Regions from separate parts of the Homo sapiens genome. Here region 2 is linked to region 1. Evidence: fine-mapped expression QTL. A gene starts in region 1. The other region holds a variant in brackets. All regions are shown on one strand. Distances are from middle to middle.

Region 1 (15,898 bases):
GCCCAAAATGTCAATAGTGCTGAGGTTGAGAAAACCTGCTCTAGAACAGGGCAAATGTTACTACCCACACCTATCTGCAAAGGTTCATGGTGGAACCCAAGGTTGGGGTCTGACCACCCTGGATTCAAATAACCATGCTGCCTCTTATTGGGCGTGTGTCCTTGTAAAATATATTTAACCTCCATTAGCCTTAGGAGAGCCTGCTTCTGGGGAGGAATAAGTTTAAGCAGGGAATATTGATACCTAACTTACAGAACAGTTGTAAGGACTTAGAGAAACAGTATGTGAAGTGCCTAACACAGTGTCTGGCCCATTGTAGGCCCTTGAAATGTTAGTTTTCTTTCCATCCCCCTTTCTAACTTCTGCTTCTGAGATGACTTTAACCTAAACTACATAGTGCTAAGCAGCATAATTGTGTTCTAAAGAGCTTCTGAAAGCAAGGCAACAGAAAGAAAAATAAACTCACACAGACCCACATTATGTGTAAGAGTTGGTGCCTCTTCTGTGTTGTGGCATCGTGCATTGTAGGTGGCATGGGGAAATGTCACCCCATTTCTTTAGAATCAGTGTACCTTTCCTGACCTCTTTGGGCCCCCCTTGGAGAGTGAACATCAGGAGTGGCCATTGACTGGTTATCTGGGTTGTTCCTGTGGCTCCATAAAGACACATGCCCAGGGAAGAGCAGAGCATGAGGATGGGTCTTCTGGAGAGAGCAATGGAGTGAAAGGCAGAAGATGTCGCTTCCAGAGCCTGACAAACTGCTTTCTGTGTGATGTGGGTAAAACATATACCTTCTCCTGGCTACAGACTTGGTGTTAGGGCATGTGAGTTGAGGGGATCTTCTAGCAGGCCAATTTTGGGTATAAATCATTTGGCTTGTCTCTTTCCAAGCATTTCTGCCATCATATAAGTTCTCATATTCTAGTGCTGCTGAAGGATTAAATGAATTAAACTATCTCATAGGAAATCTGGGACATTGCTGAGGCAGAAGGTCAAAGTGTGCTGGTGGGACTCCTAGATGGCCCTTATCACTTCTGCTTGGGAGGGGCACACTCCATTTCCCCTCATAGCTCACTGGCCACATCTAGTCACATGCCCAGGTCTGATGTCAGTGGAGTGGGGTCAGTGGGTGCCTCAGTGCACTTGAGCTGCCATAACAAAATACCTGAAAGTGGGTAATTTGTAAACAACAGAAATGTATTACTCAAAGTTCTGGAGGCTAGGAAGTCCAAGATCAAGATGCCAGAATATTTGTAGTGTGGTAAAGACTCCGTCTGCATCATAAATGACACCTTCTTGCTGCATGCTCACATGGTGAAGTGGCAAACAGGTTCTCTCAGGCCTCTGATAAGGACACTAATCCCATTTATGAGGGCTCTGCCTTCATGGCCTAACTACCTCCTAAAGATTATTAGGTTTCAACATATAAATGTGTGGGAGACACAAACATTCAGACAAAAGAAGTGGGCCTAAGAGGGACCCTAAGGACCTGCCGGTACATGTAACTTCACAGCTAGGTTTCATGGGCCAGAAAACAAGATTTCATCTCCACTATCATCTTCCTCAACATGAGGGGTTATTGAGTGAGTACCTTTAGGGGACAATACTAGGGAAATGTAAAACTTCCAAATGGGAAGCTGCTGGTTTTATTGTGGGGAGGGAAAGAATGGAATCACATTCCATTTCTGCCACTTCTCTGGAGAGGGTCTTAGTCCCTTTGAGAAGGAGCTTGGTCATCTGTGAAATAAGACGCACCACATTATCTTCTTCAGAGTACTGTCCTGAGGGATAAATGAGAAAACCTGTCAAGTGCCTATGGGAGATAGTAGGACTTCAGCACATAACAGGTCTGGCTATTTGCCCCCTCCCTCCCAGAGAGTAGATGACATTGACCTAAACCAAAGGGCATTACTGCTATTGAGACCTTGTGGAAAGGTAGCAGCAAGAGCTGAAATATATCCCCATAACCTATGAGCTTTGGGCCAGTTCTGAGTTGTGGGATGAGTTACATGTGAGAGCTGGGGAAAAGGAAAAATAAATCACCATACCATTTCCTATAACTGCATCTGCCTTCCTATCCTCTTAATTTATCATTCAGTTTGACACTGGAGGAGCAGTTTCCCATTAACTTTAAGGTAGAAGGGACACCACAGGGCAATATGACAAGAATACTGGACGGAAGACTAGAGTCATAAGACCAGACACATTATGATCCACGATTATGTTCTGTTATATGGCAAAAGGGAGATGATCAGCATAGGCCTGACCTAATTAGTCAAGCCCTGTAAAATCAGAGAATTTTCTCCTGCTGTTTAGAGTAGGGCAAGTCAGAGATTCAAAGCACAGGAAGCCTTCAATGTGCCATTGCTGGATGGAAGAAGGAGGCCACATGGCAGGCAAGTGGACTAGCCCCCAGGAGCTAAGAATATCCCCAACTGACAGTCATCAAGGAAATGGGGACTGCGGTTCAATGGCCACAAGGAAATGACTTCTGCCAGCAGCAAGAATGATCTTGGAAGCAGATTTTTATCTAGATCATCCGCGTGAGACCTCAGTGGAGCCAACATGGGCACCTTGATTCTAGCTTTGTGAGACCTTGAGCAGAGAATAAGGTCATGCTGGACCAGTCTTCTGACCTACAGACCTGTGAGCTACTAGATGGATGTAGCTTTCAGACACTAAGTCTGGTTACACACCTACAATAAATTAATACATTCCAGTTAAGTTAAATCTATTCAATGCATACACAGTATTTTTGTTTACATGTACACATGTGTATAGATGATAATTGGTGGAAACATAATTACAGTTTTTATTAGTGCATGGTGGGGTTAGATATTATCAATATTCATATTGGTATTTGAATGCACTTTCCACATTTTTTAAATAGACAGTGGGTTACTTATTAATCAGAGATAAAACACATTAGAGCTTTGTTCATGTCAAATTTGATAGATTTCAGACTTTTCAAAAGGTATTGTAAATATGATAGTAGGCAAACACGTACACAACCAAGGTTATGAAGCAAAACATTACAGAGTGGACTCTCCTGTGTGAGTTCCCTGATTGCCTCAGCGCCCTCAGAAGGAACCACTATCCAAAATTTCTTGTTTAGTCATGAATACATCCCTAAACTAAACACATAATTGCTTTGCATATTTTTATCTCTATATAAGTAACATATTTATATATCTATTATCGAAATGTTTTCTTCTGAAAATAGTGTTTCTGAGATGTTTCTAACCAGGTGACTTTGGGACTATTTTGATATTTACCCATGCTCCTGTGAACAGGTTTGCTATGTACCGAGACTCTGCAATGCACATCTGAGAGGGCAGCAGATGACAGAGCCTCACATGCTTCTATTGTGGGTGCTGCTCAATATCTCCACAAAGAAGTTGTACCAATTTGTCCGCTCCAAGCTATGTATGGGCTTCTCGTGGCCCCAACATTTCAATTCAAACAGGATGCAACATAAACACAAATTCGATGATTGGGTTTTCTTTTCAAACTCTAGAATTATTCCAAGACATATTCTAAGGTATAATATGGAACCATTAGCTAAGCATTTTTAATGCACCTGTGAAATACACTATTTAAAACATAATACGATAGGGAAAAATAAAGAAAATCTAATGTACCAATAACAGGATCTCAGAATAAAAAATATTAAAAATCTGTGAAACCTATTTTTGCACAGATCAGGAAAAACAGATGTTTTCAAATTGTTGGATGGAATATAAGAACTATTAAAGAAATTTTAAAGTTCAACTATATAGGAAGCATTAAAAATATTAAATGGTCATGCTCTTTGACAAAACAGTTCCACTTCTGGGAATGTATCCTCCTGATATGGCCTCAAGAGTCTCCTGCTGTAACCACTCGTGTCCACACTGCTCAGGGCTGAGATGACCATTTCCTTAGTTGGCCCAGTGCCTTCATGTCCCAGATCCTGAGTCATCTACCCCTGGATCAAAACAGGAAAATCAAATCTGAATCATGGATGGATGCCCAGACTCGAAGGACCATCCACTAATTCACCACAAACATTGATACAGAGCAATGCTCAGGTCCCAACTCCTGGAGAGATTTGTAGACCTCAGGCCTCATCCCTGTCTGGGAGAAATCTTCCTTCCTCTCCCATCTTTGTGTCCTGAGAGGCCCCCACATCCCTACCAGGTACAAGCAGCCCGGTCCTTTCAACAAATTAAGTTTTCATAAAGGATGAAAGAAAAACTGGCTCCAGAAGGCTTCTGCTGTCAGCCCTCTCACAAACCTCCCCTGAAGTAAGGAGAGGGGGCACCAACCTTACTGCAGGGAGGGTAAGCAAGGAGAACAGAGATTAACCTCCTTAACAGTACATGTCCAGATACATTTGCTAAAGGTCTACCACTAGCAACTCAAGGTGCCCAGGCTGGCAGGTTCTATCCCTGGCTCTGGCAGTGGGCCTGGTGAGTAACCTCCTTGCCATTCAGCTCTGTGTTTAGGAGCACGTGCTTTATAGTCACTGACATCCATGAGGAAGAGAGGATACTGGTACCTCACCAGCACGGCTGTCATGAGATTAAATCCAGACACTAATGTGAAGAAACTGGAGCTGGGCCCAGCTAAACCATCTGCCTTACAAAATAGTAGCTGTCTTTTCCTCCTCCAAGCAGGGAACTCATGTTACTCTGAGCTGCCACCTCAGCCAGGGCCCCTTAAGAGGGCGCACATCGTAGTCACCTTGATGAGTCTTTTCTAAACCCTCAGCTGAAACTCCCTTGTTGGTGGAAAAATAGGACTTTGGCATCAAAGATCATTAATGTCTTAAGTTATAATATGAGCCTTGGAAAACAGATATATCCACTTGGCACCAACAGTATATGTGAGCGTCTGCTGGCTTTTCATTCCACCAACACCAAGTATTACCAACTTTTGTCCTTATTGCCAATCCAATCTGCTCATTTTCCCCAGACCTGTCCCATTGGAAGAATCAGCTCAGATGGTCATTAAACTTAGAGATTCACAGGGTCATCCCCTGCAATTGCCAGATTTAGCAAATAATAAGACGATTTAAAATTTTTATTTTGTTATTTATTTCATTTACTTTTATTTATTTAATTAAAATCCAGTTGGATTTTAATTTTAAATAAACTAATATTGCATGCCACATAAACTAAAAAATATTCCTATTAATCCGGAATTTAAAGTTAACTGAGTTGATTTTAATCTGGTAACTGTACACGTGGAGGGCTCTGTGGAGAGCCAAGATGCTCAGGTCAACAGCCTTAACTGAGCTCCCAGCAGACGCCAACACCAGTCATCATTCATGTGAGTGAGCTCTCTCAGATGTCCCAGATGAGTGGAACCTCCAGATGACTGCAGCCCCAGGTGACAGACATCATATAGAGCAGAAAACATCCAGCTGGGCCCAGTTAACACACAAAATACTGAGAGAAAATAAATGGCTATTAATTAAGGGTGCTTGTTAAGAAGGAACGGATATCTAAAACATTATGGTTTTGGTGAACTTTTCCTCATTTTCTGTGTTGTGTTATCATTGGGTAAGAAAGGAATTTTCTTATCCTTGAAGGCTTAGTGAAACTTGGTTATAATTGTATCATCTGAGTGTTGGCTTACATGTGGGTACAGATTTCTGAACATGTCATCAATTCCTTCTTGAAGGGATTCCCAAGGGCAATTTACATGATATCTATTTTTCATGCTAGTCTTAAAATTTGAAACCTAACTCCTTAAGAAGAATTCCCACTGCAATCATGTGAATTAAGATACTGAGAGGGCATTGCTACAAACCATTCTATGAGGAAACCTGAGAGGTTGTCTTAGTGAGTATTCATTCTGAACAATTTTAGAAGTGTTTCTCAAAGAAAGTGTCCTGAAACACTTTCTCCTGCTATAGTGATAACCCTTGGCAAGGAAGTAACTTTCCTTGGGCACACATAGACAGGGCTCCTTTAGGAGACAGCAGATAGATATACATTGCAGTCCTTGGTCTTTATGACTGTCCCAATGCAGCACTGCTGGGTGGATAAGTCAATTCTAGAACTTACTCATAGTAAGCCCACGTGACAGCAAATCTAAGTCACATTCTCCAATATCACCTTATAAGAGATAAAGTCAATATATGTTTCTCCTTATTCTTTTCCTATGTTTCTCAGTTGGTTTAGAGCTCAGACTAGAAGCAGAAGAGTATTTTGGGGGCCCCTTAAAGAATTAAGCATTGTGAATCAAGAACTATAGGAATAATTGTAGAGTCAGTGAGACACAGTTAGAGGAGTAAACCTGTGGGCCTATTTTAAGTCCCATCCCTGAAGGCAAAGCTGAACAAGTGCCTCCTGAAGGGCAGCTTACTACCAAGAAGTTGAAGGGAGAGGGCTTGGGCAGAGTATCATGTGTCTCCTTCCAGATTCTCCAATCGGATAAGTCATTCCTGCCGTAGAGAGGAGTGAGTGTGTAGAGGCTACATGTATTTTTGTCATGGATGTATTTTCCACATGGAAAAACATACCAGGAATGAAGGATAAGAATTTCCTTAAGGCAGGGCTGGGTGCGGTGGCTCACGCCTGTAATCCCAGCACTTTGGGAGGCCGAGGCGGGTGGATCACGAGGTCAGGAGATCGAGGCCAGCTTGACTAACATGGTGAAACCCTGTCTCTACTAAAAATATAAAAATTAGCTGGGTGTGGTGGTAAGCGCCTGTAATCCCAGCTACTCGGGAGGCTGAGGCAGGAGAATCGCTTGAACCTGGGAGGCAGAGGTTGCAGTGAGCTGAGATTGCGCCGTGCACTCCAACCTGGGCGATAGAGCGAGACTCCGTCTCAAAAAAAAAAAAAAAAAAAAAAATTTCCTTAAGGCAAACTACTGTGTGTTTTAATTGACTGGATTCCTGCCTACTAAATGATTATATTATTCTAGTCCGGCCTCCCTGAAATAACTGTATTATTACTCAAATGACAGTTTTTGTGTTTCTAGATCATTCAGTCACTTGATTATAAACAATCTGTTTTCTGCCACAGAAAACCAACTGCCTAGTATAGTGTGTGAGTTGTACATGTTCCTCCTCAGAGGGCTAGCTCATCTCCCAGAGTCCTAGGACACCTCTCTGGGCTTCTGTGTACTGATGATACTCCTCTAAGGTCACTTTTTTTTTTTTTTTTTTTTGAGAATCTCGGCTCACTGCAAGCTCCGCCTCCCGGGTTCACACCGTTCTACTGCCTCAGTCTCCTGAGTAGCTGGGACTACAGGCGCTCGCCACCACGCCCGGCTAATTTTTTGTATTTTTAGTAGAGATGGGGTTTCACCGTGTTAGTCAGGATGGTGTCGATCTTCTGACCTCGTGATCCTCCCGCCTCGCCCTCCCAAAGTACTGGGATTACAGGCATGAGCCACCGCGCCCGGCCCCCTTAGGTCACTTTTAAAGCAAAATTCCTGACAACATGGACTTCCTTTCCTCTACCATAATGAGTAGAGAGTCTTGAAAATTGCCCGGATCCCAGCCTCTAATTGGTATGTTTTCTCAGGGAGTTATCTGAAGAATGAAGGTGTTTTGCTTTAAGGGATAGGCTGGGGATGGAGGAGCGGGTTGTGCATAGTCATTTTCAGGTGTGGAAGACAAGCCAGTGCTACGCGGTTGCCATAGTAACCTGACGTCATATTAGCGACGGTGACGACTTTTTATTGAGACCAATTTGGCCTGGGGAGAACCGCCTTCAGGCGTTTGGACTCAGTGGAGGTTGTGAGTGCCCAGCAGTGTGGCCTGAATCTCCGTGGGGTTTAGGGAGACGAAAGGACCCCAGATCGACGTCCCCTCGTTCCCACTTTGGGGATCGGCGCTCTGGCTGTTTCGTGAAGGAGAGAGAGGTGGGTCTCTTCTGGCCCCAGTGAGTGTGGTGTCCTGCTCCAGGGTGTCCCGGGGCTACTTTCCCTGTAAAGGCGGGACGCGGGAGGATGAGACAGGTAAAGACCCTCTCTGAGCCCAGTTTCCCACTCTGTAAAATGGAAATAAAAATGCTCACCCACAGGATTGCTGAAACCTTCAGTGATAACATAGGTGCAAGACGATAGCCCTGTGGTTATTGCAGGATCAGGAATGCCTGTATGAAGTCAGGCCTCTTCTTGTTCTGTTTCAAACTTTCTTACAGTATAGACAAGGGAGAAACTTTATGTTTAACATGCATTTATGATAAGTTTATATATATATTTCTGACTGCATAAATAATAACCAGTGATTCCCATCAACACTATCAAATGAATGTTGAAATATAAAGTTAGTTAGAAGGCCTTCCTACCAATTTGAGATTATAATATGCATTCTCCCATATCTGTTGTATAATAAATTTGTTTATGAACTATAACTTATAAAGTGTCAATTAAAAAGTCATATGATGTTTTGATATATTTTATACATTGTAGAATGGCTGAATCAAGCTAATAAACCTATGCATTACCTAATGTACTTTTTTTTGTGGTGAACACTTAAAATCTACCCTTTTAGCAGTTTTCAAGTGTACAATATATTTTTATTAACCATGGTCACTATGATGTACAATAGATCCCTTGAATTTATCCCTCCTCTCTAACTGAAATTTTGTATCCATTGACCAACATCTCCCCAAACCCCTCCCCAGCCTCTGTCTGGTAATTACTGTTCTACTCTCTGCTTCTATGAGTTCAACTTATTTAGATTCCATATACAAGTGAGATTACGTGGTATTTGTCTTGCTGTGCCTGGCTTATTTCACTTAATGTCCTCCAGGTTCATCCATGTTGTCACAAATGACAGGATTTCCTTCTTTTTTCAAAAAGCTGAATAGTACGCCATTGTGTGCATGTATGACATTTTCTTTATTCATCTGTTGGTGGATACTTAGGTTGATTCCATACCCTGGCTATTGTGAATAATGCTGCAGTGAACATGGGAGTACATACATCTGTTTGAGGTACTAATTTCATTTCCTTTGGATATATACTCAGAAGGGGGACTGCTGGATCATTTGGTAATTCTATTTTTAGTTTTTTTCAGGAATGACCATACTGTTTCTGTAATATCTGTATAAATTTACATTCCCAGTATTGTACAAGGGTTCCATTTTTTTCCACATCCTTGTGAACACTTACCATCTTCTGTTTTTTTAAATAATGGCCATCCTAACAAGTGTGAGGTGATATCTTGTTATGGTTTTAATGTGCATTTCCCTGACAATTAGTGATATTGAGAATTTTTTCACATATCTGTTGGCCACTTGTATGTCTTACTTTGAAAAATGTATATTTTATTATATATGGACACATGATTATTGTACATATTTATGGGGGTACACTGTGATATTTCAATATATGTATACAATGTGTAGTGATAAAATCAGGGTAGTTAGCATATCCATCATCTCAAATCTTTATCATTTATATGTGCTGGTAACATTCAACATTTTCTCTTCTAGCTATTTGAAAAAATACATTAAATTATTGTTTGATAATTTAGTATAATGCTATAGAACACTAGAGATTATTCTTCCTATCCAGGGTCTGGAGTATGGGCTAGCCTTCAATGGATGTTAATCTAGTGTCTGGAGTACAGACATGTGCAAAGTGACCTTGGCTTAGGGGCCCGGATCCCAGCCTAGTTCCTCTAATTGGTATGTTTTCTCAGGGAGTTATCTGAAGAGTGAAGGTGTTTTGCTAGGTCTCTATGGCAGTGGCTCTGGTGTCTGAGGCATGGGCAGGCACAGTCAGGCACAGAGCTGGGGTCTGGAGTATGGGTATTTACAGAGTAGTTGTAGCTTGGGGGGGTCAGTGACACATGCAGCATTGGGACAGGTGGCACCTCTGGTCCCAGAGTGGTATAATAGCTGCTGCTTCTTGAGATGAGAAGTGTGTAGCCACTTCTCCCTCTCTGGGGTTCCTTGGGCAGGAATGGCTGTTGGTTATCTCAGTGGCGAAAGATGCCAGTGTCCTCTCCAGAGCAGACTGCTGGGGACCATGGTGATTCCTGCCACATGGCTAATAGCAATAGCCTTTGCCTTTCTTCTTTGCTCCTAGACATCTCCTGGCACCTCAAGTATACTGATCTCACCAGCAATATTTTCTGTGTGGATATTCCCCATTTTTTTTTCTACTGTGTTGCTGCAGATTCTTAAATGGGCCCCTGAGCCCTCCCATGAATACTTTAGTTTGTGGATAGCTGTCTACACTTGTTTTTTTGTGGCAGGGGGTGATGAAGGCTGATATCTCCTACTCTGCCCTCTTGGTCCTTCAGTATCTAGTTTGCCCTATTCTAATGATACCCTGCCATGTCCCCTAAAGGAACCGTATAGGCTTATATATCATTGTTATTATTTTCAAGGACATAACATTTTCAGTTCTGTTGTACCCAGCCTACCCATTCCTCCCACTGTCCTGTCTCCAGACAAATACAGCACTTTTGTCATTATAGATTAGATTTCATTTATTTAAAAATAATCATAGAGGTTTTTTTTTTATTTTTTTTTTTTAGGGATCTGGCTTCTTTCATTCACTCTATGTATTTTTAGATTTGTCCATTTTATTGCCTATTTCAATAGTTTTTTTTTTTTTATTACAGAGTAGCATTACAGTATAGGATATACTACAATTCGTTTTGTCCATTCACTTGCTAATGGATATTTGGGTTGTATTCAATTTAGGGGATCTTGTGTATGAGTCTTTACAGAGAAATGTGCTTTCTTTCTCTAGGGTAAATACTTAGGATTGCAGTGGCTGGAACATGTTATAGATGTAAGACTAACATTGTAAGAAACTGCCAAACTGTTTTCAAAGTGGTTGTACCATTTTTCATTGTCTCAGCAGAGCTTCATCCTCCACAACCTCGTCAGTGCTTGGTATGGTCAGTCTCTAACTTTAGTGATTCTCATGCGGCGATAAAACAAGACGACCCAATGGAGCTTAATTAGGCCACACACAAAAAACATTAACTATTTAAAGGAATAATATTTAATCTACTGGGCTAAAAATTTCAGTTGGGGTAACTTCAGAGCACCGTACAACCTCTGAATGATTAAAACCCGGACTAGACTAGTTATTCATAAAAGTGTGTTATAATTTATTGACCCAAGCAATTTGATCAATAGAACAAGTTACCCTAGGGATAACAGCATGATCATATCTTAGAGTTCATATCAACCATAGGGATTTACAATCCTGATGTGGGATCAGAACATCTCAATAGTATAACAGCTATTTTTTTTTTTTTTTTTTTTGAGACGAAGTCTCGCCCCGTCGCCCAGGCTGGAGTGCAGTGGTGCAATCTCGGCTCACTGCAACCTCTGCCTCCCAGGTTCAAGCGATTCTCTTGCCTCGGCCTCCCGAGTAGCTGGGACTACAGGCGCCCGCCACCTCGCCTGGCTGATTTTTTGAATTTTTAGTAGAGACGGGGTTTCACCGTGTTAGTCAGGATGGTCTGGATCTCCTGACCTTGTGATCCGCCCGCCTCAGCCTCCCAAAGTGCTGGGATTACAGACGTGAGCCACCGCGCCTGGCCAGCAGCTATTAATTGTTTATGTTTTCAGTGACCAAAGTCCTACATGATTTAAGTTCAGGATCTGGGTTGGTTTCCACCTATTTAATATTTCTCCCAATACAAAAAGAGAAGAGAATTATGGCACACAAAAAGCACCCTCAATTCAAAAGATGATATAATCTAGATCTAATTTATTATTATACACTTTGCCCCAAAACAGGGCTTGTTAAGATGGTAGAGCCTGGTAATTGCATAAAACTTGAAATTTTATAATCAGAGGTTCAATTACTCTTCTTTTTAAAATAATTGTTTATTTTATTTTTATTTTTTGTGGGTATACAGTAGGTGTATGTATTTATGGGGTACATGGGACGTTTTGATACAGGCATGTAATGCATATCAATCACATCGTGGAAAATGGGTATCTCCTCAAGAATTTATCCTTTCTGTTACAAAAAAATCCAATTATACTCTTTTAGTTGTTTTAAAATATACAATTAAGTTATTATTGACTATAGTCACCCTGTTGTGCTATCAAATACTAGGTCCGTTTCATTCTATTTTTTGTACTGGTTAACCATCCCCCATCTCTCCCCAACCCTCCCCAATTCCTTTCCCAGCCTCTGGTAACCATCCTTCTACTCTCTATCTCCACAGGTTAAATTGTTTTGATTTTTAGACCCCACAAATAAATAAGAACATGCAAGGTTTCTCCTTCTATGTCTGGCTTACTTCACTTAACATAATGATCGCCAGTTCCATCCATGTTTTTGCAAATGACTGGATCTCATTATTTTTTATGGCTGAGTAGTACTCCATCGTGTATAAGTACCACATTTTCTTTATCCATTCATCTGTTGATGGACACAGGCTTCTTCCAACTCTTGTCTATTGTGAACAGAGTGGCAACAAACATGGGAGTGCAGATGTCTCTTCAATATACTGATTTCCTTTCTTTTGGGTATATATCCAGAGTAGGATTGCTGGATCACATGGGTAGCTCTATTTTCAGTTTTCTGAGGAACCTCCAAACTGTTCTCTACAATGGTTGTAGTAATTTACGTTCCCACCAACAGTGTACGAGGGTTCTTTTTTCTCCACATCTTCACCTGCAATTGTTATTGCCCGTCTTTTGGACATAAGCCATTTTAACTGAGAAGGGATGATATCTCATTGTAGTTTTGATTTGCATTTCTCTGATGATTCATTACGTTGAGCACCTATATATGCCTGTTTGTCATTTGTATGTCTTCCTTTGAGAAATGTCTATTCAGATATATATATATATTTTTTTTTTTTTTTTTTTTTTTAGACGGAGTCTTGCTCTGTCAGCAGGCTGGAGTGCAGTGGCGCAATCTCGGCTCACTGCAACCTCCACCTCCTGGGTTCAAGCGATTCTCCTGCCTCAGCCTCCCGAGTAGCTGGGACTACAGGCGCATGCCACCATGCCCAGCTAATTTTTGTATTTTTAGTAGAGATGGGGTTTCACCATTTTGGCCAGGATGGTCTCGATCTCTTGACCTCGTGATCCACCCACCTTGGCCTCCCAAGGTACTGGGATTACAGGCATGAGCCACCGTGCCCGGCCTGCCCATTTTAAATTCAGATTATTATATTTTTTCCTATAGAACTATTTGAGATACTTATACATCTGGTTATTAATTCCTTGTCAGATGGGTAGTTTGCAAACATTTTTACCCATTCTGTGGTTGTTTCTTAACTTTGTTGATTGTTTCCTCTGCTGTGCAGAAGCCTTTTAACTTGATGTGATGCTATTTGTCCATTTTTGCTCTGGTTGCCTGTGCTTGTGGGGTATTACTCAAGAAATTTTTGCCCAGACTGATGTTCTGGAGAGTTTTCCCAAAGTTTTCTTGTAGTAGTTTTATAGTTTGAGGTCTTAGATTTAATTCTTTAATCCATTTTGATTTGATTTTTGTACATGATGAGAGATAGGGGTCTAGTTTCATTCTTCTGCATATAGGTATCCAGTTTTCCCAGGACCATTTATTGAAGGTACTGTCTTTACAGTATATGTTCTTGGCACCTTTATCAAAAATGATTTCACTGTAGGCGTATGCATTTCTTTCCGGGATCTCTATTCTGTTCCATTCATCTATGTGTCTGTTTTTATGACAGTAGTATGCTGTTTTGGTTACTATAGCTCTGCAGTATAATTTGAAGTCAGGTAATGTGATTCCTCCACTTTTATTCTTATTGCTCAGGATCGCTTTAGCTATTCTGGGTCTTTTGTGGTTCTATATCCCTTTTAGGGTACTTTTTTTCTATTTCTATGAAGATTGTCATTGGTATTTTGATAGGAATTGCATTGAATCTGTAGATTGCTTTGGGTAGTATGGGCATTTTAACAATATTGATTTTTCCAGTGCCTGAACGAGGGATATTTTTCCATCTTCTGGTGTCCCCTTCAATTTATTTCATCAGTCCTTTGTGGTTTTCATTATAGAGGTCTTTCACTTCTTTGGTTAATTCCTAGGTATTTTATTTCGTTTGTGGCTATTGTAAATGGGATTACATTTTTATTTTTTTTTTCAGATTGCTCACTGTTGGCATATAGAAATGCTACTGATTTTTCCATGTTGATTTTGTATCCTGCAACTTTACTGAATTTATTTATTAGTATGAATAGTTTTTTGGTGGAGTCTAGGTTTTTCCAAATATAAGATAATGTCATCTGCAAACAAGGATGATTTTAATTCTTCCTTTCCAACTTGGAGGCACTTTATAGCTTTCTCTTCTTTGGATGCTCTAGCTAAGAGCTCCAGTACTGTATTAAATAACAGTGGTGAAAGTGGCCGGCCATATTATGTTCCAGATCTTAGAGAAAAGGCTTTCAATTTTTTTTCCCATTCAGTATGATACTAGCTGTGGGTCTGTCAATATGGGTTTTATTATGTTGAGGTATGTTCCTTCTACCCCAGTTTTTTAGGGTTTTTATCAAGAAAGAGATGTTGAATTTTATCAAATGCTTTTCCAGCATCAATTGAAATGATCATATGGTTTTTGTCTTTCTGTTGACATGATATATCACATTGATTGATTTGCATATGTTAAACTGTCCTTGCATCCCAAAGATAAATCCCACTTGGTCATGATGAATGATCTTTTTGATGTATCATTGAATTGGGTTTTGCTGGTATTTTGCTGAAGATTTTTGCATCAATATTCATCATAGAAATTGGCCTATAGTTTTTTTTTAGTGTGTTTTTGTCTGGTTTTGGTATCAAAATAATACTGTCCTCATAGAATGAGTTTGGCAGTATTCCTTCCTTCTGTTTTTTGGAATAGTTTGAGTAGGATTTGGGTATTAGTTCTCTTTAAATGTTTGGTAGAATTTAGCAGTAAAGCCATGGGGTCCTGGACTTTTTCGTTACTGGGTGTATTAGTCTGTTTTCACACTGCTGATAAAGACATACCCCAGACTGAGACTGGGCAATTTACAAAAGAAAGAGGTTTAATTGGACTTAACAGTTCCACATGGCTGGGGAAACCTCACAATAATGGTGGAAGGCAAGGAGATACAAGTCACACCTTATATGAATGGCAGCAGGCAAACAGAGAGAGAGAGCTTGTGCAGAGAAACTCCCATCTTTAAAACCATCAGATCTCATGAGACCGGTTCACTATGACAAGAACAGCATGAGAAAGACCTATCCCCATAATTCAAACATCTTCCCCCAGGTCCCTCGCACAACATGTGGGAATTATGGGAGCTACAAGATGAGATTTGCGTGGGGACAAAGAGCCAAACCGTTATCACTGGGGAGACTTTTTACTATGGCTTTAATCTCATTACTTGTTTTTTTCTTTTTTTTTTTTTACTTTAAGTTTTAGGGTACATGTGCACAACGTGCAGATTAGTTACATATGTATACATGTGCCATGTTGGTGTGCTGCACCCATTAATTCGTCATTTAACATTAGGTATATCTCATAATGCTATCCCTCCCCCCTCCCCCCAGCCCACAACAGGCCCCGGTGTGTGATGTTCCCCTTCCTGTGTCCATGTGTTCTCATTGTTCAATTCCCACCTATGAGTGAGAACATGCGGTGTTTGGTTTTTTGTCCTTGTGATAGTTTGCTGAGAATGATGGTTTCCAGCTTCACCCATGTCCCTGCAAAGGACATGAACTCATCATTTTTTGTGGCTGCATAGTAATCCATGGTGTATATGTGCCACATTTTCTTTTTTTTTTTTTTTTTTTTGAGACGGAGTCTCGCTCTGTCGCCCAGGCCAGACTGCGGACTGCAGTGGCGCAATCTCGGCTCACTGCAAGCTCCGCTTCTCGGGTTCACGCCATTCTCCTGCCTCAGCCTCCCGAGTAGCTGGGACTACAGGCACCCGCCACCGCGCCCGGCTAATTTTTTGTATTTTTAGTAGAG
Region 2 (15,898 bases), 580 kb before region 1:
ATCAAGGCCTTAAGGACATGGGCCTCACTACTCTGAGCAGTGAAAACACAGCATCTCTTCTAGGCCAACTCCAGAACATCACCAAGGAAGAGAGTGGCATTCGTAGCATCGTTGGTAAGAATCCCCATGGTCATGGTGCAGAAAAGTGGCAAGAATGTGGGAGGTGGGCAGGTAGACCTTACCCTGAATGTGAGTTACCTAGCCATTTAAAAATGAAAGGCATGATCACTTGGAAATTTTTTTAGCTTTAGTTTCCTCATCTATAATGTGCATGGTTCAAATAGATCTTTTTCAATTTGAACAATGCATGTATGGTTTGAAGGTGGCTCTGTACCCAAGATATGTCATTCATGGGTGTTGGATACTGTCGCACTAATCCTATGAAGTCATTCCTGGTCATTTTCTAACTGTCCGCCAAGATATATGTAGAAACCCTTTCTCTATCCTATGCTTTAAGCCACCATGTGGGCCCCTACTCCTCTCCATGGAAGTGATGTTGAGTTAGGCTGTAGGACATGTTCCGTGCTGGAATGGAAGCAGTGAACTTGGACAGCTTGCTTTGAACTTTAGCATCTGATCATAGTCTGGATTGGGTGTATAGGCCTGAACTTGGTGCACTGGCTGCAACACATATTGTTACTTTCACGTACCGGGTCTACGGTCCTCTTGTTAAGTTAAACGTGCACTTGGATCTCACGTACAGCTACATAAAGTAATCTTATGAACCGCCAGGAATTTACTACCTCAGCATCTTTTGATCATGCACTGTCCTTTGGGAGCCTGATGGCATTCACTTCCCCAAAACAAACAAAAATCTAACTTATACGGTTTACCCAAATGAGCGGAGAGGTCAGTGAATAAACTGGTTAACGTAAAACTTTGGTGAGCAGATAGTGCAAAGACATTGTGAATTTCTTTAGTTCATGTCCTTTGTAGGGACATGGATGGAGCTGGACACCATCATTCTCAGCAAACTATCGCAAGGACAAAAAACCAAACACCGCATGTTGTCACTCATAGGTGGGAATTGAACAATGAGAACACTTGGACACAGGAAGGGGAACATCACACACTGGGGCCTGTTGTGAGTTGGGGGAGGGAGGAGGGATAGCATTAGGAGATATACCTAATGTAAATGATGAGTTAATGGGTGCAGCACAACAAGATGGCACATGTATACATATGTAATAAACCTGCACGTTGTGCACATGTACCCTAGAACTTAAAGTATAATTTAAAAAAAGAAAAGAAAAATGAGAACAACAAAAAAAAGAATTTATTCTGAACCCTCTTTTTTCCTCTCTTCATTGTTTTTCCCTGCTCACGGATCAGCGGATCTGTTTGTTTCTTAAATGCTGTTTGCTTCATGGCATGCAGGAGTCTCTGCTACACTTTCCTGGAGGCCTCATTCTCATTGAAGGGGAGCTGGCAGAACTGGGTTGGAAGTTTGTCATTCTGAAGTATCATAATCAGCAGGTATTTGGCCCGTACTATGCTGAGATCCTAAAAAACATCATCCATCCAGCTCAAGCACAAGAAACAGATAGTGCTGCACCCCAGCCATGGCAACAGGAGAGAAAGGTCAGTATGTTTCTGGAATGACATCACCTCCTCACTACAGCCAGGACACAGGGATGCAGGGGTCAAGCATGTAAACACCAACTGGCCCAATCCCCTTCACTAATAAACTTCTGAGCTGCAAGAAAATTTCAGTTCCTCCTGTGCTCTAGCTGAAGCCAGGTTCTACACCCTCATCCCCTAACTAGCTGAATGAGAATCCAGTGGGCCCTCCGGTTTCCCTTCACTGGCTGATCATTCTTCAGTATGCTGGCCTGAGCCAGAATCAGGGCATCAGGTACTGATAAGGGAAAATACTGGTACTGTATAGAATAATGCCTCCCCAAAACTGCGAAGGAGCTAAGAGACCAAAGAATGACCCAGACAAGTTCAGCTTGATAAGCAGATGAATTTATTGGGACTTACGGATAGGACATTCCTGGGTGGCAGCAGGACAGCTCCGGGGATCTGCCCTGACACTCCTCTGCAAACTGCTTTTAAGCTAATTTTCTGGCTCTTGCCTTCCACATGCAATGAGACTCTTTTTCTTGGTATGTTTCCCGGTATGCTCTGGGATGTTTTGATGTTTTGATTCTCAGGGACACCTCGGCTTCTAAGCTGGGCACCATGCATGGCCTTGGATCACCACCTGGCCTTCAGGGTTCAGGCAGCAGATGTACAGCCTTAAGTAATCTGGTGGAGGAGGGGGGATCTCATTAAACTACAGTCACTAGCATTATTTTCTCCATTGAAAAATCATTTTCTTGACGGACGGTGAAAACTCTTTGTGGGATTATCCAGAGAATGAATATAAGGGCTTCTGGAAGTCAGAAATTCACTGAATTGCAGATGAAGAGAAGACAAAACTCCATTTCTAGCACCATATTTCCCTTAAATTTTCAAGGATACAGCAATAGTAAGAGTTCTCAACTCCTGTCCTAGTGTCTGGTTTGAAGCAGTATGAAAAATGGGGATTGGTTGAAAATTGATATTGTGAATATCAACTTTGTGCCAACAGGCATTCAGCTAAGGACAGGTCTCAGCTTCCACGGGATTTCTCTTTCTTTCAAGTGATTCTAGGAGTCACTCCTAGTCTGGGGCTCCAACTGCCAGGTTATGAATATCAGCTGACTCAGCATCACAAATGATAAAAATGTTCTTGGTCCACAGGGACTTGGGTTTATTTTTAGAGACTGTGGAGGTTCACCCATCATTCTCAGGCCAACTGCAGCAGTCAAGCAGCAATCTAGAAAATTAGGAAAAAAATTAGGTTCGGAAGTTTTGGATTTAGAATGGACAGGGGAAAATAGAAACTTACTTATGGGATAGAACCAAACTGGGTGAAAAAAATCATGTCCTCATTATTTTGGGGGTTCAACTATGAGTGAGAACACACGGTGTTTGGTTTTCTGTCCTCGTGATAGTTTGCTGAGAATGGTGGTTTCCAGCTTCATCCATGTTCCTGCAAAGGACGTGAATTCATCCTTTTTTATGGCTGCGTAGTATTCCACATATGTACATGTGCCACATTTTCTAAATGCAGTCTATCATTGATGGACATTTGTGTTGGTTCCAAATCTTTGCTATTGTGAATAGTGCCTCAGTAAACATACATGTGCATGTATCTTTATAGTAGCATCATTTATAATCCTTTGGGTATATACCCAGTAATGCGATTGCTGGGTCAAATGGTAATTCTAGTTCTAGATCCTTGAGGAATCGCCACACTGTCTTCCACAATGGTTGAACCAATTTACACTTCCACCAACAGTGTAAAAGCATTCCAATTTCTCCACATCCTCTCCAGCATCTGTTGTTTCCTGACTTTTTAATTATTGCCATCCTAACTGGCGTGAGATGGTATCTCTTTGTGGTTTTGATTTGAATTTCTCTGATGGCCAATGATGACCAGCATTTTTTCATGTGTCTGTTGGCTGCATAAATGTCTTCTTTTGAGAAGTGTCTGTTCATATCCTTCGCCCACTTGTTGATGGGTTTGTATTTTTCTTGTAAATTTGTTTGAGTTCTTTGTAGATATTAGCCCTTTGTCAGATGGGTAGATTGCAAAAATTTTCTCCCATTCTGTAGGTTGCCTGTTCACTCTGATGGTAGTTTCTTTTGCTGTGCAGAAGCTCTTTAGTTTAATTAGATCTCATTTGTCTATTTTGGCTTTTGTTGCCATTGCTTTTGGTGTTTTAGACATGAAGTCCTTGCCCATGCCTATGTCCTGAATAGTATTGCCTAGGTTTTCTTCTAGGATTTTTATGGTTTTAGGTCTAACATTTAAGTCTCTAATCCATCTTGAATTAATTTTTGTATAAGGTGTAAGGAAGGGATCCAGTTTCAGCTTTCTACATATGGCTAGTCAGTTTTCTCTGCACCATTTATTAAATAGGGAATTCTTTCCCCATTTCTTGTTTTTGTCAGGTTTGTCAAAGATCAGATGGTTGTAGATGTGTGATGTTATTTCTGAGGCCTCTGTTCTGTTCCATTGGCCTATATATCTGTTTTGATATCAGTATCATGCTGTTTTGGTTACTGTAGCCTTGTAGTATAGTTTGAAGTCAGGTAGCATGATGTCTCCAGCTTTGTTCTTTTGACTTAGGATTGACTTGGCATTGCGGGCTCTTTTTTGGTTTCATATGAACTTTAAAGTAGTTTTTTCCAATTCTGTGAAGAAAGTCATTGGTAGCTTGATGGGGATGCCACTGAATCTATAAAGTACTTTGGGCAGTATGGCCATTTTCAGGATATTGATTCTTCCTATCTATGAGCATGGAATATTTTTTCCATTTGTTTGTGTCCTTTTTTATTTCATTGAGCAGTGGTTTGTAGTTCTCCTTGAAGAGGTCCTTCACATCCCTTGTAAGTTGGATTCCTAGGTGTTTTATTCTCTTTGTAGCATTTGTGAATGGGAGTTCACTCATGATTCGGCTCTCTGTTTGTCTGTTAATGGTGTATAGAAATGCTTGTGATTTTTGCACATTGATTTTGTATCCTGAGAGTTTGCTGAAGTTGCTTATGAGCTTAAGGAGACGTTGGACTGAGACAATGGGGTTTTCTAAATATACAATCATGCTGTCTGCAAGCTGGGACAATTTGACTTCCTCTTTTCCTGATTGAATACCCTTTATTTATTTCTCTTGCCTGATTGCCCTGGCCAGAACTTCCAACACCACAATGAATAGGAATGGTGAGAGAGGGCAGCCTTGTCTTGGGCAAGTTTTCAAAGGGAATGCTTCCAGTTTTTGCCCATTCAGTATGATATTGGCTGTGGATTTGTCATAAATAGCTCTATTATTTTGGGATACGTTCCATCAGTACCAAGTTTATTGAGAGTTTTTAGCATGAAGGGCTGTTGAATTTTGTCAAAGGCCTTTTCTGCATCTATTGAGATAATCATGTGGTTTTTGTCAAAGGTTTTGTTTATGTGATGAATTACATTTATTGATTTGCATATGTCGAACCAGGCTTGCATCCCAGGGATGAAGCCGACTTGATCGTGGTGGATAAGCTTTTTGATGTGCTGCTGAATTCAGTTTGCCAGTATTTTATTGAGGATATTTGCATGGATGTTCATCAGGGATATTGGTATAAAATTCTCTTTTTTGTGTGTGTGTCTCTGCCAGGCTTTGTTGTCAGGATGAGGTTGGCCTCATAAAATGAGTTAGGGAAGATTCCCTCTTTTTCTTTTTTTTATTTTTATTTTTTATTATACTTTAAGTTTTAGGGTACATGTGCACATTGTGTAGGTTAGTTACATATGTATACATGTGCCATGCTGGTGCACTGCACCCACTAACTCGTCATCTAGCATTAGATATATCTCCCAATGCTATCCCTCCCCCCTCCCCCCACCACACAACAGTCCCCAGAGTGTGATATTCCCCTTCATGTGTCCATGTGATCTCATTGTTCAATTCCCACCTATGAGCGAGAATATGCGGTGTTTGGTTTTTTGTTCTTGCGATAGTTTACTGAGAATGATGATTTCCAATTTCATCCATGTCCCTACAAAGGACATGAACTCATCATTTTTTATGGCTGCATAGTATTCCATGGTGTATATGTGCCACATTTTCTTAATCCAGTCTATCATTGTTGGACATTTGGGTTGGTTCCAAGTCTTTGCTATTGTGAATAATGCCGCAATAAACATACGTGTGCATGTGTCTTTATAGCAACATGATTTATAGTCCTTTGGGTATATACCCAGTAATGGGATGGCTGGGTCTAATGGTATTTCTAGTTCTAGATCCCTGAGGAATCGCCACACTGACTTCCACAATGGTTGAACTAGTTTACAGTCCCACCAACAGTGTAAAAGTGTTCCTATTTCTCCACATCCTCTCCAGCACCTGTTGTTTCCTGACTTTTTAATGATCGCCATTCTAACTGGTGTGAGATGATATCTCATTGTGGTTTTGATTTGCATTTCTCTGATGGCCAGTGATGATGAGCATTTTTTCATGTGTTTTTTCTATTGATTGTAATAGTTTCAGAAGGAATGGTACCAGTTCCTCCTTGTACCTCTGGTAGAATTCTGCTGTGAATCCATCTGGTCCTGGACTTTTTTTGGTTGGTAGGCTATTAATTATTGCCTCAATTTCAGAGCCTGTTATTGGTCTATTCAGAGATTTGACTTCTTCCTGGTTTAGTCTTGTGAGAGTGTATGTGTCCAGGAATTTTTCCATTTCTTCTAGATTTTCTAGTTTATTTGCGTAGAGGTGTTTATAGTATTCTCTGATGGTAGTTTGTATTTCTGAGAGATCGGTGGTGATATCCCCTTTATCATTTTTTGTTGCATCTATTTGATTCCTCTCTCTTTTCTTCTTTATTAGTCTTGCTAGCACTCTATCAGTTTTGCTGATGTTTTCAAAAAACCAGCGCCTGGATTCATTGATTTTTTGAAGGGTTTTTTTGTGTCTCTATCTCTTTCAGTTCAGCTCTTATTTTAGTTATTTCTTGCCTTCTGCTAGCTTTTGAATGTGTTTGCTCTTGCTTCTATATTTATTTTAATTGTGATGTCAGGGTGTCGATTTTAGATCTTTCCTGCTTTCTCTTGTAGGCATTTAGTGCTATAAATTTCCCTCTACACACTGCTTTAAATGTGTCCCAGAGATTCTGGTATATTGTGTCTTTGTTCTCATTGGTTTCAAAGAACATCTTTCTTTCTGCCTTCATTTTGTTATTTACCCAGTAGTCATTCAGGAGCAAGTTGTTCAGTTTCCACGTAGTTGTGTGGTTCTGAGTGAGTTTCTTAATCCTGAGTTCTAATTTGATTGCACTGTGGTTGAGAGACAGTTTGTTGTGATTTCTGTTCTTTTACATTTGCCAAGGAGTGCTTTACTTCCAATTATGTGGTCAATTTTAGAATAAGTGTGATGTGGTGCTGAGAAGAATGTATATTCTGCTGATTTGGGGTGGAGAGTTCTGTAGATGTCTATTAGATCTGCTTTTTGCAGATCTGAGTTCAGGTCCTGGATATCCTTGTTAACCTTCTGTCTCGTTGATCTGTCTAATATTGACAGTGGGGTGTTAAAGTCTCCCATTATTATTGTTTGGGTGTCTAAGCCTCTTTTTAGGTCTCTAAGGGCTTGCTTTATGAATCTGGGTGCTCCTGTATTGGGTGCATATATATTTAGGTTAGTTAGCTCTTCTTGTTGAATTGATTCCTTTACCATTATGTGATGGCCTTCTTTGTCCCTTTTGATGTCTGTTGGTTTACGGTCTGTTTTATCAGAGACAAGGGTTGCAACCCCTTCTATTTTTGCTTTCCATTTGCTTGGTAAATCTTCCACCATCCCTTTACTTTGAGCCTATGTGCCTCTTTGCATGTGAGATGCATCTCCTGAATACAGCACACTGATGGGTCTTGACTCTTTATCCAATTTACCAGTCTGTGTCTTTTAGTTGGAGCATTTAGCCCATTTACATTTAAGGTTAATATTGTTATGTGTGAATTTGGTCCTGTCATGATGATGTTCACTGGTTATTTTGCCTGTTAATTGATGCAGTTTCTTTTTTTTATTATTATTATACTTTAAGTTTTAGGGTACATGTGCACAATGTACAGGTTAGTTACATATGTATACATGTGCCATGCTGGTGTGCTGCAACCATTAACTTGTCATTTAGCATTAGGTATATCTCCTAATTTTATCCCTCCCCCATCCCCCGATCCCACAACAGTCCCCAGAGTGTGATGTTCCCCTTCCTGTGTCCATGTGTTCTCATTGTTCAATTCCCATCTATGAGTGAGAACATGC[A/G]GTGTTTGGTTTTTTGTCCTTGTGATAGTTTACTGAGAATGATGATTTCCAATTTCATCCATGTCCCTACAAAGGACATGAACTCATCCTTTTTTATGGCTGCATAGTATTCCATGGTGTATATGTGCCACATTTTCTTAATCCAGTCTATCATTGTTGGACATTTGGGTTGGTTTCAAGTCTTTGCTATTGTGAATAGTGCCGCAATAAACATACATGTGTATGTGTCTTCATAGCAGCATGATTTATAGTCCTTTGGGTATATACCCAGTAATGGGATGGCTGGGTCAAATGGTATTTCTAGTTCTAGATCCCTGAGGAATCACCACACTGGCTTCCACAATGGTTGAACTAGTTTACAGTCCCACCAACAGTGTAAAAGTGTTCCTATTTCTCCACATCCTCTCCAGCACCTGCTGTTTCCTGAATTTTTAATGATTGCCATTCTAACTGGTGTGAGATGGTATCTCATTGTGGTTTTGATTTGCATTTCTCTGATGGTCAGTGATGATGAGCATTTTTTCATGTGTCTTTTGGCTGCATAAATGTCTTCTTTTGAGAAGTGTCTGTTTATATCCTTTGCCCATTTTTGATGGGGTTGTTTGTTTTTTTCTTGTAAGTTTGTTTGAGTTCATTGTAGATTCTGGCTATTAGCTCTTTGTCAGATGAGTAGGTTTTGAAAATTTTCTCCCAATTTGTAGGTTGCCTGTTCACTCTGATGGTGGTTTCTTTTGCTGTGCAGAAGCTCTTTAGTTTAATTAGATCTCATTTGTCAATTTTGGCTTTTGTTGCCATTGCTTTTGGTGTTTTAGACATGAAGTCCTTGCCCATGCTTGTGTCCTGAATGGTAATGCCTAGATTTTCTTCTAGGGTTTTTATGGTTTTAGGTCTAACATTTAAGTCTTTAATACATCTTGAATTAATTTTTGTAGGAGGTGTAAGGAAGGTATCCAGTTTCAGCTTTCTACATATAGCTAGCCAGTTTTCCCAGCACCATTTATTAAATAGGGAATCCTTTCCCCATTGCTTGTTTTTGTCAGGTTTGTCAAAGATCAGATAGTTGTAGATATGCAGCGTTTTTTGTGAGGGCTCTGTTCTGTTCCATTGATCTATATCTCTGTTTTGGTACCAGTACCATGCTGTTTTGGTTACTGTAGCCTTGTAGTATAGTTTGAAGTCAGGTACCGCAATGCCTCTAGCTTTGTTCTTTTGGCTTAGGATTGACTTGGTGATGCGGGCTTTTTTTTGGTTCCATATGAACTTTAAAGTAGTTTTTTCCAGTTCTGTGAAGAAAGTCATTGGTAGCTTGATGGGGATGGCATTGAATCTATAAATTACCTTGGGCAGTATGGCCATTTTCACGATATTGATTCTTCCTACCCATGAGCATGGAATGTTCTTCCATTTGTTTGTATCCTCTTTTATTTCATTGAGCAGTGGTTTGTAGTTCTCCCTGAAGAGGTCCTTCACATCCCTTGTAAGTTGGATTCCTAAGTATTTTATTCTCTTTGAAGCAATTGTGAATGGGAGTTCACTCATGATTTGGCTCTCTGTTTGTCTGTTATTGGTGTATAAGAATGCTTCTGATTTTTGTACATTGATTTTGTATCCTGAGACTTTGCTGAAGATGCTTATCATCTTAAGGAGATTTTGGGCTGAGACAATGGGGTTTTCTAGATATACAAGCATGTCATCTGCAAACAGGGACAATTTGACTTCGTCTTTTCCTAATTGAATACCCTTTATTTCCTTCTCCTGCCTAATTGCCCTGGCCAGAACTTCCAACACTATGTTGAATAGGAGTGGTGAGAGAGGGCATCCCTGTCTTGTGCCAGTTTTCAAAGGGAATGCTTCCAGTTTTTGCCCATTCAGTATGATATTGGCTGTGGGTTTGTCATAGATAGCTCTTATTATTTTGAGATACGTCCCATCAATACCTAATTTATTGAGAGTTTTTAGCATGAAGCGTTGTTGAATTTTGTCAAAGGCCTTTTCTGCATCTATTGAGATAATCATGGGGTTTTTGTCTTTGGTTCTGTTTATATGCTGGATTACATTTATTGTTTTGCATATATTGAACTAGCCTTGCATCCCAGGGATGAAGCCCACTTGATCATGGTGGATAAGCTTTTTGATGTGCTGCTGGATTCAGTTTGCCAGTATTTTATTGAGGATTTTTGCATCAATGTTCATCAAGGATATTGTTCTAAAATTCTCTTTTTGGGTTGTTTCTCTGCCCGGCTTTGGTATCAGGATGATGCTGGCCTCATAAAATGAGTTAGGGTGGATTCCCTCTTTTTCTATTGATTGGAATAGTTTCAGAAGGAATGGTACCAGCTCCTCCTTCTACCTCTGGTAGAATTCGACTGTGAATCCATCTGGTCCTGGACTCTTTTTGGTTGGTAAGCTATTGATTATTGCCACAATTTCAGAGCCTGTTATTGGTCTATTCAGAGAGTCAACTTCTTCCTGGTTTAGTGTTGGGAGAGTGCATGTGTTGAGGAATTTATCCATTTCTTCTAGAGTTTCTAGTTTATTTGCATAGATGTGTTTGTAGTATTCTCTGATGGTAGTTTGTATTTTTGTGGGATAGGTGGTGATATGCCCTTTGTCATTTTTTATTGCATCTATTTGATTCTTCTCTCTTTTCTTCTTTATTTGTCTTGCTAGCGGTCTATCAATTTTGTTGATCCTTTCAAAAAAACAGCTCCTGGATTCATTAATCTTTTGAAGGGTTTTTTGTGTCTCTATTTCCTTCAGTTCTGCTCTGATTTTAGTTATTTCTTGCCTTCTGCTAGCTTTTGAATGTGTTTGCTCTTGCTTTTCTAGTTCTTTTAATTGTGATGTTAGGGTGTCAGTTTTGGATCTTTCCTGCTTTCTCTTGTGGGCATTTAGTGCTATAAATTTGCCTCTACACACTGCTTTGAATGTGTCCCAGAGATTCTGGTATGTTGTGTCTTTGTTCTCATTGGTTTCAAAAAACATCTTTATTTCTGCCTTCATTTCGTTATGTACCCAGTAGTCATTAAGGAGCAGATTGTTCAGTTTCCATGTAGTTGAGCGGTTTTGAGTGAGTTTCTTAATCCTGAGTTCTAGTTTGATTGCACTGTCGTCTGAGAGACCGTTTGTTATAATTTCTGTTCTTTTACATTTGCTGAGGAGTGCTTTATTTCCAATTATGTGGTCAGTTTTAGAATAAGTGCGATGTGGTGCTGAGAAGAAACTATATTCTGTTGATCTGGGGTGGATAGTTCTGTAGATGTCTATTAGGTCCACTTGGTGCAGGGCTGAGTTTAAGTCCTGGATCTCCTTGTTAACATTCTGTCTCGTTGATCTGCCTAATGTTCACCGTGGGGTGTCAAAGTTTTCCATTATTATTGTATGGGAGTCTAAGTCTCTTCGTAGGTCTCTAAGGACTTGCTTTATGAATCTGGGTGCTCCTGTATTGGGTGCATATATATGTAGGATAGTTAGCTCTTCTTGTTGAATTGATCGCTTTACCATTATGTAATGGCCTTCTTTGTCTCTTTTTATCTTTGTTGGTTTAAAGTCTGTTTTATCAGAGAGTAGGATTGCAACCCCTGCCTTTTTTTGTTTTCCATTTGCTTTGTAGATCTTCCTCCATCCCTTTATTTTGAGTCTGTGTGCATCTCTGCACATGAGATGTGTCTCCTGAATACAGCACACTTGAGTCTTTATCCAATTTGCCAGTCTGTGTCTTTTAATTGGAGCATTTACCCCATTTACCTTTGAGGTTAATATTGTTATGTGTGAATTTGATCCTGTCATTATGATGTTAGCTGGTTATTTTACTTGTTAGTTGATGCAGTTTCTTCCTAGCATCGATGGTGTTTATAATTTGGCATGTTTTTGCAGTGGCTGGTACTATTTGTTCCTTTCCATGTTTAGTGCTTCCTTCAGGAGCTCCTGTAGGGCAGGCCTGGTGGTGACAAAATCTCTCAGTATTTGTTTATCTGTAAGGGATTTTATTTCTCCTTCACTTATGATGCTTAGTTTGGCTGTATATGACATTCTGGGTTGAAAATTCTTTTCTTTAAGAATGTTGAATATTGGCCCCCACTCTCTTCTGGCTTGTAGAGTTTCTGCTGAGACATCAGCTGTTAGTCTGATGGGCTTCCCTTTGTGGGTAACCTGACCTTTCTCTCTGGCTGCCCTTAACATTTTTTCCTTCATTTCAACTTTGGTGAATCTGACAATTATGTGTCTTGGAGTTGCACTTTTTGTGGAGTATCTTTGTGGTGTTCTCTGTATTTCCTGAATTTGAGTGTTGGCTTGCCTTGCTAGGTTGGGAGAGTTCTCCTGAATGATATCCTGAATAGTGTTTTCCAAGTTGGTTCCATTTTCCCTGTCACGTTCAGGTACACCAATCAGATATAGATTTGGTCTTTTCACATAGTCCCATATTTCTTGGAGGCTTTGTTCGTTTCTTTGTACTCTTTTTTTCTCTAAACTTCTCTTCTTGCTTCATTTTATTCACTTTATCTTCAATCACTGATACCCTTTCTTCCACTTGATCAAATCAACTACTTAAGCTTGTGCATGCGTCACATAGTTCTCATGCCATGGTTTTCAGCTCCATCAGGTCATTTAAGTTCTTCTCTGCACTGTTTATTCTAGTTAGCCTTTTGTCTAATCTTTTTTCAAGGTTTTTAGCTTCTTTGCAATGTGTTCAAACATCCTCCTTTAGCTTGGAGAAGGTTGTTATTACTGATCGTCTGAAGCCTACTTCCATCAACTTGTCAAAGTCATTCTCCATCCAGCTTTGTTCTGTTGCTGGTGAGGAGCTGCGTTCGTTTGGAGGAGAAGAGGTGCTCTGATTTTTAGAATTTTCAGCTTTTCTGCTCTGGTTTCTCCCCATCTTTGTGGTTTTATCTACCTTTGGTCTTTGATGATGGTGATCTGCAGATGGGGTTTTGGTGTGGATGTCCCATTTGTTAGTTTTCCTTCTAACAGTCAGGAGCCTCAGCTGCAGGTCTGCTGGAGTTTGCTAGACGTCCTCTCCAGACCCTGTTTGCCTGGGTATCACCAGCCAGGGCTGGAGAAAAGCAAATATTGCAGAACAGCAAATGTTGCTGCCTTATATTTCCTCCAGAAGCTTTGTCTCAGAGGGGCACCCGGCTGTATAAGGTGTCAGTTGGCCCCTACTTGGAGTGTCTCCCAGTTAGGCTACTCTGGGGTCAGGGACCCATTTGAGGAGGCAGCCTCTCTGTTCTCAGATCTCAAACTCGCTGTTGAGGGAACCACTACTCTCTTCAAAGCTGTCCAACAGGGATGTTTAAGTCTGCCGAAGTTTCTGCTGCCTTTTGTTCAGCTATGCCCTGCCCCCAGATGTGGAGTCTTCATAGGCAGGCAGGCCTCCTTCAACTGCGGTGGGCTCCACCCAGTTCGAGCTTCCTGGCCGCTTTGTTTACCTACTCAAGCCTCAGCAATAGTGGACGCCCTCCCCCAGCCTCACTTCCTCCTTGCAGTTTGATCTCAGACTGCTGTGCCAGCAGTGAGCAAGGCTCCTTGGGTGTGGGACTCTCCGAGCCAGGCACAGGATATAATGTCCTGGTGTGCCATTTGCTAACACCATTGGAAAAGAGCAGCATTAGGGTGGGAGTGTCCCAATTTTCCAGGTACCATCTGTCACCGCTTCCCTTGGCTAGGAAAGGGAATTCCCCGACCCTTTGCACTTCCCGGGTGAGGCCATGCCCCGCCCCCGCCGCCCGCTTCAGCTCACACTCCGTGGGCTGCACCCACTGTCCAACAAGCCCCAGTGTGATGAACCTGGTACTTCAGTTGGAAATGCAGAAATCAGAAATCACCCGTCTTCTGCATCACTCACGCTGGGAGCTGTAGACTGCATCTCTTCCTATTCGGTCATCTTGGAACCTCCTCCCTCAGGAATTTCTTTATAGCAGTGTGAAAACAGACTAATACAGGCGGTAAGCTAGAAAGGAATAGTATCTGGCTGCATTGGTTTAAACCATTTACTGATCCTAAGCACAAAGCATTGTTATGTTCTACCCCCAAATATACTTTGTAAAAGTACTAACCTGCAACATAAATACAAGAAATCAATTCTGAATCTTTGCATGATTGCAACTTTCTCACTTTTATCAAAATATCAAATTCTTTAAAAACTAAAACACACATCACCTGTCTCCTCCTTTCCTTTCATTTCCTTCCTTTCTCTCCTTTCTCTTCCTTTTCCTTCACTCTCTCTGTTATGCTTGTTCCCTGAGCACATGTTTAGAATGTTTACTGGGAGAATTAATAAGGGTATAAAGATAATCATTACAAAATCAATTAAGAGAGAAATTAAGCTGATTTAGGATATGCTGTACATATTGGCATCTAGAAAATCTCTGATGTCCTTAACAAAAACATAGGCAGAAGAGGAGCAGAGCAGGTCATCACACATTTATGGGAGTGTAAACAGGGGAGGAGGAAATTGATACATCACATACAGGTGATTATGATAATTAATCTCCACAGACAGTTAATATGGCAGGGGGGTAGGCAAGTACCGGGCTTTATTGCAGGGATGGGAGAGGGGTAGGGTATGGTGTCCCTATTATTATTCCAATTTTACAGATGAGGACAGTTGAAGCACAGAGGTATTAGGTCACTTAGCTAAGTGGTCACCGAGCTTGTATATAGTGAAATGATGATTTGTCTCTGTCAGTCTCACTCCACATTCTGTGTCCTAATCACTAAGGAGGTAGCCAAAAGTAAATTGACATTAATTCAGACTTAACTAATTACCAGCCTTCCAGAGCCCTGCCACAGACAGATGATCTACAAGTCCATGACCTATACCTCTCATAGTGTTTCCCCCCGCTAACACCACATCCCTCTCTACCAATAACAGCCAGGGCCCTTATCAGACACTGAATCTGCCAAATTTGTCCACAAACCCTGAGGAAGTCTCCCTCCCTCCACCAACCCTCTGTGTCCCTCTGCCACTTGGACCCATTTGGCTCCCTCAGTGTCCAATTTGCTGAGTAAACTTCTAATATTTGCTATCACTCCTGATACCCAAGTACTGTCCACTGAGGCAGGATGTAAAATTTGGTAGAAAGGTTGGGATCTGAGCCACAGTCCGATCAAAGTTTTGCCTGAGCATGGACTACAGTTCTGACAATTTTCTGCATCTGTAGGTCTGAATTTACAGAGGGCTAAAAGATTAGATCCAGTTCAGAAGTTTCTATTAATGGGCTAGGCATGGTACATGGCCATAGGACTGTGACCATGCCCACAGGATTCATGTGACTTCACCTGGATGAGAGAGCTGAACCTGCCACACAATAGTGAGGGCCATAAGGGGGGCAATATTCACATGACTCATAGGGTTCCAAAGTCTACAGTTTTTACACAATACAAAGAGTTTAGCCTGCCTAATGACTATAAGGGAGCACATGATCAGAGTGCTAAGGTCTGAATATTTGTGTTCCCCCAAAATTCATATGCTGAAATCCTAAACCCTAAGGTGATGTTATTAGGAGCTGGGACTCTGGGGAGTTGATTAAGTCATGAGGGTAGAGCCCTCATGAATGGGATTAGTGTCCTTTCAAAATAGGCCCAAGAAAGATCCCTTTCCCCTTCCTCCATGTGAGGTTAGAGTGAAAATATGGCCAGTGCCCTTATCAGACACTGAATCTGCCAGTGCCTTGACCTTGGACTTTCCAGCCTCCAGAACTGTGAAAAATAAATTTCTGTTGTTTATAGACTACACAGTCCATGGTATTTTGTTATAGTAGCCCAAACAGACTAAGCCACATGGTATCCATGTGACCAACAGCAGTAGAGTACCTGTGGTGCCCACATAATTATGAGGGCCTCATTGCCACATGAAAGTAGGAGGCCACATGATTGTAGTATTCACATGAGCCATAGCATTAGAAGCCTGCAATGTTCACTTGCCTGGAAGGGCTATTTCTGCCTCATGACAATAGAGTTCATTGGCAGTAGTGTCCTAGTGTTCTGCATGCTTCAGGGGTCTATCTGATTCATGACACATGGAGATCCGGGATTGCCTATGTTCCTGGGCTCCACAGTGAAGGTGG

Alleles and levels. Alleles are on the strand shown, and positions count from the first base shown. SD is a standard deviation of normalised expression in the study named.
In carriers of allele G in region 2, the expression in tibial nerve of the gene that starts at base 7,675 in region 1 tends to be lower than with A alone (large effect, 0.83 SD a copy in GTEx).

Evidence for each region.
Region 2: its variant is fine-mapped to the expression of LINC00630 in tibial nerve (GTEx, PIP above 0.99).

What each region holds. Positions count from the first base shown.
Region 1 is chrX:102,761,479-102,777,376 of GRCh38, forward strand. LINC00630 (long intergenic non-protein coding RNA 630) reads left to right here and starts at 7,675. Exons shown (of 12, transcript NR_146589.1): 1 at 7,675-7,863. All of the region lies in intron 8 of ARMCX5-GPRASP2 (ARMCX5-GPRASP2 readthrough), which reads left to right.
Region 2 is chrX:102,183,480-102,199,377 of GRCh38, forward strand. It overlaps the pseudogene TCP11X3P. Among named protein-coding and RNA genes, the nearest start is that of TCP11X1, 24 kb to the right of the region's middle. The variant A/G (reference allele first, on the strand shown) is at 7,827.